2 linked regions of the Homo sapiens genome follow. The protein of the gene in region 1 purifies or fractionates together with the protein of each later gene. This does not show direct contact. Each region holds a gene or a part of one and is shown on either strand. Other genes may lie near its edges.

Region 1 (3,500 bases):
GCTTTGAAAACCAATAACAAATGGAAAAATTTATATAAACTATGTAAAAATCTATCTGCTTCTTTGGACTATGCAATAGTTTCTTAGATATGACACCAAAAGCACAAGAACAAAGGAAAAATTGATAGATTAGACTTCATCCAAAAACTTCATTCAAAGTTTGTCCTTTGAAAAATTTTTATGTTTCAAAGGACAACATCAAGAAAGTGAGGCCAGGCGCAGTGGCTCACATGTGCAATCCCAGCACTTTGGGAGGCCAAAGCGGGTGGATGACCCGAGGTTAGGAGTTTGAGACCAGCCTGACCAACATGGTGAAACCCCGTCTCTACTAAAAATACAAAAAAAAAAAAAAAAAAGAAAAGAAAAAGAAAGAAAGTGAAATGACAACCGACAACCCACAGAATGGGAGAAGATATTTGCAAATTATATTTGTCTGAGCAGGAACTCGTATCCAGCATATTTAAGAACTCTTAAAATTCAACAACAAAAAGACAACTCAATTTAAAAATGGGCAAAGGATTTGAATAGAAGATATACAAGTGACCAATATGCGCATGAAAATGCTGGATATCATTAGCCATCAGGGAAATGCAAAGCAAAACCACAGAGTGGGCTGGGGTGGCCAAAATAAAATAGGCCATAGCAAGTGTTGATGAGGATGTGGAGAAATTGGAGCCCTCATACACTGCGAGTGGGAACATAAAATGGTGCAGCAGCTGTACAAAGCAGTTTGGCAGTTCCTCAGAAAGTTAGTTGCCTTATGACTCAGCAATCCCTCCCCTACTTACATACCATGAGAAGTGAAAGCATATGTCCACATAAAATCTTGTTCATGGCAGCATTATTCATAATAGCCAAAAAGTGAAACCTATGCAAATGTTCATGAACTGACAAATGGGTAAACAAAATGTGGTTTATCCATCCAGCAAACTGCTCTTCTGCAATAAAAAGAAATATCGTTCTGTTACATGCCATAACATGGATGAACTATGAAATGATTATGCCAAATTTAAGAAGCTAGTCACAAAAGGCCACATATTGTCATTTAAATATGATTCTGTTTACGTGAAATGTGCAGAATAGGCAAATCCATAGAGACAGAAATTTGATTAGGGCTTGACTGGGGCTGGGGAAGGGGAATGACTACTTATGGGTATACAGTTTCTTTTCGGGGTGATGAAAATGTTCCACAGATAGTGGTGATGGTTGCACAAATCTGCAACATACTAAGAACCACTGAATTGCAGACTTTAAAAGGGTGAGGTTTGTGGGATGTTAATTATATCCCAATAAAGCTATTGGGAAAAAAAATTTACCTGCTTTGACTTAGAGCTAAAATAGAGCTGTCAAGAGGTATAGTTTATTTTTGTTTATATTTGGTTTAGTTTATAAAGGCTTTTTAAAATTTTTTTTATTATACTTTAAGTTTTAGGGTACATGTGCACAACGTGCAGGTTTGTTACATATGTATACATGTGCCATGTTGGTGTGCCGCACCCATTAACTCGTCATTTAGCATTAGGTATATCTCCTAATGCTATCCCTCCCCCCTCCTCCCTCCCCCCACTCCACGACAGGCCCCGGTGTGTGATGTTCCCCTTCCTGTGTCCAAGTGTTCTCATTGTTCAATTCCCACCTGTGAGTGAGAACATGTGGTGTTTGGTTTTTTGCTCTTGCGATGGTTTGCTGAGAATGATGGTTTCCAGCTTCATCCATGTCCCTACGAAGGACATGAACTCATCCTTTTGTATGGCTGCATAGTATTCCATGGTGTATATGTGCCACATTTTCTCAATCCAGTCTATCATTGATGGACATTTGGGTTGGTTCCAAGTCTTTGCTATTGTGAACAGTGCCACAATAAACATACGTGTGCATGTGCCTTTATAGCAGCATGTTTTATAATCCTTTGGGTATATACCCAGTAATGGGATTGCTGGGTCAAATGGTATTTCTAGTTCTAGATCCTTGAGGAATCACCACACTGTCTTCCACAATGGTTGAACTAGTTTACAGTCCCACCAACAGTGTAAAAGTGTTCCTATTTCTCCACATCCTCTCTAGCACCTGTTGTTTCCTAACTTTTTAATGATCGCCATTCTAACTGGTGTGAGATGGTATCTCATTGTGGTTTTGATTTGCATTTCTCTGATGGCCAGTGATGATGAGCATTTTTTCATGTGTCTGTTGGCTGCATAAATGTCTTCTTTTGAGAAGTGTCTGTTCATATCCTTATAAAGGCTTTTAAAAAGTCATCTCCGCCAGGTGCAGTGGCTCACATCTGTAATCCCAGCACTTTGGGAGGCCGAGGTGGGAGGATCACTTGAGACCAGGAGTTCAAAAGCAGTGTGGGCAACAGAGGGAGGCTCTATCTCTACGAAAAATAAACATAAAAATAAAAAAGTCATATCATACTGTTAAATATAGTAATATTTTAAAATGTTTACATTTTGGCATTTCTTATTTTGAATTACGGTAACTGTGAATTGTGACTTCATTATTCTAGGATACTTACTTTGTTCTTAACTGCAAACTAAACAATCTTTTGGATGATGTCAACATTTCTATAACTAAATGTATTCGCATCCTTCATTATTATTTAAATTGGCCATTTTGTGAAAATATTAGGCACTTTAAATAATCAGAGGAGTGGGGAAATACTGCCGAAGTTTTCAGTTGGCTCTCATTATTTCTATTATCTTAAATAAGAAAGGTAAGAAAGTGGAATTCTGGTAATTATTTTGCAATCTCTGCGCTCTGCACCACTGTGAACTCATAGCTGAAGCTGCCTTGGACTATTTTACCTGGGCATCACCCATATACTCCTTGTTATTATAAATTGGGAGACAGTAAAACAGACTTGATTTTTGAGGTCTATTGCATTAAAAAAAAACAGAATTTAGAAGATGAACTCAGTTGTACTTATCCTTTAATCCTGTTTTATCTCTGGCAACTATTAAACAAGTCGAACTGCTCAGAGAAGTTGGGCAATAAGCTAAAGCTACTTCATAATAGTATGGTTCCATCAGAACAGATGGTGCAGTGTCTGACCTATTTCCCATCAAGAATAGATTAAAACTCTTACATAATAGAACTAGTACTGTGCAGTCTGTTTTCCATAGCACTATTCCTGGCTGCAGAAAGAGATCAGAAATAAAAGAAAATAATGTAGTTAGACAAGTAGAAGAACATCCTTCCAATTAAACTGACTTAATGTATTATCATAAATCATGGAGGCAGTAAGTCTGCATGCTACTTGATGACTGGTAAATGGGATCCTGAATTAAGCTTTGATTCATTCATTTGACAAATATTTATTAAATGTCTGCCATGCACCCGGACAGCTGAGCCCTAGGGATACAGCTGTGAGCAAGGCAGATGTACAAGGCAGATCGACAAAGCTTTCATTTTAGTCAAAAGAAGACACATAAGTGAGCACACGATATTTTGCAGAGATAGACGTATGTTTTATGAATGTTTGTCCTATCATTCAATGAATA
Region 2 (3,500 bases), on another chromosome or scaffold:
AAAATATTCAGTGAACCGTGTTGTAAACAGATGTCATATTATCCAGACTGTTCCATTTATTGAACACAGGCAGAGTAGGTAAAAGTTTTAAGGGTCCTAGGATTTTCAGGATGGCAAATGAGCATTGGCTTCAACTTAAAGTCACCAGCTACATTCACCACTAAAGAGAGTCAGCCTGTCCTTTAAAGCTTTAAAGGCAAGCATTGACTTCTCTTTAGCTATGAAAGTTTTAGATGGCACCTTTTTGTAAAAGAAGGTTGTTTTATCTACATTGAAAATATATTGTTCATTGTAACCACTTTCATCAATGATCTTAGCTAGATATTCTGGGTAACTTACTGCAGGTTCTCCATCAGCACTTACTGCTTCACCTTGCACTTTTATATTATGGAAACAACTTATCTCCTTAAACATCATTAACCAACCTCTTGGTAGCTTCCAACTTTTCTTCAATAGCTTCCTCATCTCTCTCAGCCTTCATAGAATTGAAGCGTGTTAGGGCTTTGTTCAGGATTAGGCTTTCACTTAAGGCAATGTTGTGGCTGGTTTGATCTATTGAAACCACTAAAACATTCCCATATCGGCAATAAGGCTGTTTGATTTTCTTATCATTCATGTTTTCTGGAACACTTTTCAATTACTTACAGTAAGGAAATAGCACTTTTAATTTCCTTCAAGAACTTTTCCTTTGCCTTCACAACTTGTGCAAGAGACCTAGCTTTCAGCCTATCTTGACTTTCCAAGATTGTCCTTGGTGAGAAATGCTTGATTACTAGGTGTAATTATTTCTAGCTTTTGATTGAAAGTGAGAGATATGTGACTCTTCCTTTTACTTGAACAGTTAGAGGCTATTGTAGGATTATTAATTGGCCTAATTTCAATGTTATTTTGTCTCAAGGAGAGAGGGATGTGGGAACAGCTGGTTAGGAGAGCAGTCCGAACACACACTTTTTTTTATTACTTTCACTGCCTTACATGGGTATGGTTCATGCTGCCTCCAAATACTTACAAAAACATCAAAGATCACTGATTACAGATCATTAAAATAGGTTTAATAATAATGGAAACATTTGAAATATTGCAAAAATTACCAAAATGCGACAGAGACATGAAATGAGAACATGCTGTTGAAAAAAATGGCACTCATAGACTTGTTGGACACAGGATTGAAAGAAACCAATTCATCAAAACCACAATATCTGCAAAACGCAATAAGGTGATGCACAATAAAAGGAAGTATATCTGCACTTCCTTCTTTTTTACTGAAAAAGCCCAAGTTCTTACTCTGGTGTTGAGAACCTTTCATTAGCTGGCTACAATCTCAGTTCACAATCATTTCTTATTGCCCTTCAACAATGTCCTGACCAAATCGAGTTCTTTCTCATTGGGAACAGTTCATTCCTTTATCCCTTCGCTCATTCTGTTCCTTTTTTCTTAGAAAAATTATTTGCCCATGTTTTTTATCCCCCAATTCTATCTTTTTCAATGCCCACTTCGTGTCCAACCCCTCTCTACTTTCCCTCTAAACTTACTCAAACACTTGGTGAACTTTTTCTGAATGTTTTTTCTGAATGTTTACTTTTAAAGGAGTTGCCCAGTCACAAAGTTTGAGCCAAGTTTTTTTGTTTTAAACTTGTTTTAAACTTTTGTTTTCATCAACTTTTTTCAAACAATTTTTGTCAGCTTAGAGGTTGTGTTTTAATTACTATTTTTAAAATCTTGTATGAGGTAGTATGATTTGAAATTAGATGGAATGTGCCCAAAATTATCTCTGTAGAATAATATGGAAAAACGAAAATGAAAAGATGTATTACCTGAATGTGCTCCTCCTAGCCAGTTTCTCAAGGGAGAAGAATCATTAATAAGTTTGTGAGGCTTTTTTTTTTTTTCTGGTAGATTTCTGTTTCCTTGATCAGTGGTTTTTCAGAATTTTTTAAAGCTTGTGAAATACTTATTTGTAAATAGCATCTTATGAGGAACCTTGATATGTGACAAAACAGATGCTTTGATTTGAGAGCAGAAGACCTGCAGCCCCTGACTGCTCACCTTTCCAGGGACCCCTGAACATTGGCCTAGAGGGTAGTGTACAGTCACTTCTTCAGTGATAACTTACTGAGTGTGATTCAACAAAACTGCTTTGGTTTATGGGTGAAACATAATTTATAACTAGGCAAATGTCAGCTTAAATTTATATTTTCTAAATAGCACTGAAAATGACAATAGACAAATGTAATTTCTGATTTTTAAGAAATGATTTTCCATTTTAACATACATTTTAAATGTTTTGTCTTCAAAGGGAATCCTTAAAAATGATATATTGGAAACCACTGATTTCTTATTTTCATTTCATGAATTTCAGATTCATGAATGGAATATATTGATAATAGCATTTTTTAAGTTGCCCCAAAAAGATGAAATACAAATAATTTTAATCCCAAATCTATTTCAGACACCTAACTTTTTTTTTATTTTTTATACTTTAAGTTCTAGGATACATGTGCAGAACGTGCAGGTTTGTTACATAGGTATACACGTGCCATGTTGGTTTGCTGCACCCATCAACCCGTCATCTACATTAGATATTTCTACTAATGCTATCCCTCCCCTAGCCCCCTACCCCACAAAAGGCCCCAGTGTGTGATGTTCCCCTCCCTGTGTCCATCTGTTCTCATTGTTCAACTCCCACTTATGAGTGGCAACATGTGCTGTTTGGTTTTCTGTTCCTGTGTGTGTTTGCTGAGAATGATGGTTTCCAGCTTCATCCATATCCCTGAAAAGGACATGAACTCATCCTTTTTTATGGCTGCATAGTATTCCATGGTGTATATATGCCACATTTTCTTTATCCAGTCTATCATTGATGGACATTTGGGTTGGTTCCAAGTCTTTACTATTGTGAACAGTGCTGCAATAAACATATGTGTGTATGTGTCTTTACAGTAAAATGATTTATAATCTTTTGGGTATACACCCAGTAATGGGATTGCTGGGTCAAATGGTATTTCTGGTTCTAGATCCTTGAGGAATCACCACACTGTCTTCCACAATGGTTGCAATTTACACTCCCACCAACAGTGTGTAAAAGCTTCCTATTTCTCTACATTCTCTCCAGCATCTGTTGTTTCCTGACTTAATGATTGCCATTCTAACTGGCGTGAGATGGTTTCTCACTGTGGTTTTGATTTGCATTTCTGTAATGACCCGTGATGATGAGCTTTTTTTCATGTTTGTTGGCTGCATAAATGTCTTCTTTTGAGAAGTGTAAGGTACTTAATTCTTAAATTAAAAAAAAATACCCGGCCGGGCACGGTGGCTCACGCCTGTAATCCCAGCACTTTGGGAGGCCGAGGCGGGTGGATCATGAGGTCAAGAGATCGAGACCATCCTGGCTAACAAGGTGAAACCCCGTCTCTACTAAAAATACAAAAAATTAGCCGGGCGCGGTGGCGGGCGCCTGTAGTCCCAGCTACTCGGGAGGCTGAGGCAGGAGAATGGCGTGA

The links. Proteins that work in one complex are often made in the same cells at the same time.
Region 2: the proteins of SLC46A3 (region 1) and TMEM106B purify together in Homo sapiens (affinity purification with mass spectrometry; one large-scale study listed by BioGRID and IntAct). This does not show direct contact.

The regions. Positions count from the first base shown.
Region 1 is NC_000013.11:28,705,471-28,708,970, reverse strand, and holds part of SLC46A3 (lysosomal proton-coupled steroid conjugate and bile acid symporter SLC46A3 isoform a precursor), read left to right. Parts: intron 1-1,338; exon of another isoform or gene 1,339-2,374; intron 2,375-3,500. UniProt on the Homo sapiens protein: Lysosomal proton-coupled steroid conjugate and bile acid transporter. Preferentially recognizes lipophilic steroid conjugates or bile acis as endogenous substrates and seems to mediate escape from lysosomes to the cytoplasm.
Region 2 is NC_000007.14:12,238,794-12,242,293, forward strand, and holds part of TMEM106B (transmembrane protein 106B), read left to right. Parts: 3' UTR 1-3,500. UniProt on the Homo sapiens protein: In neurons, involved in the transport of late endosomes/lysosomes. May be involved in dendrite morphogenesis and maintenance by regulating lysosomal trafficking.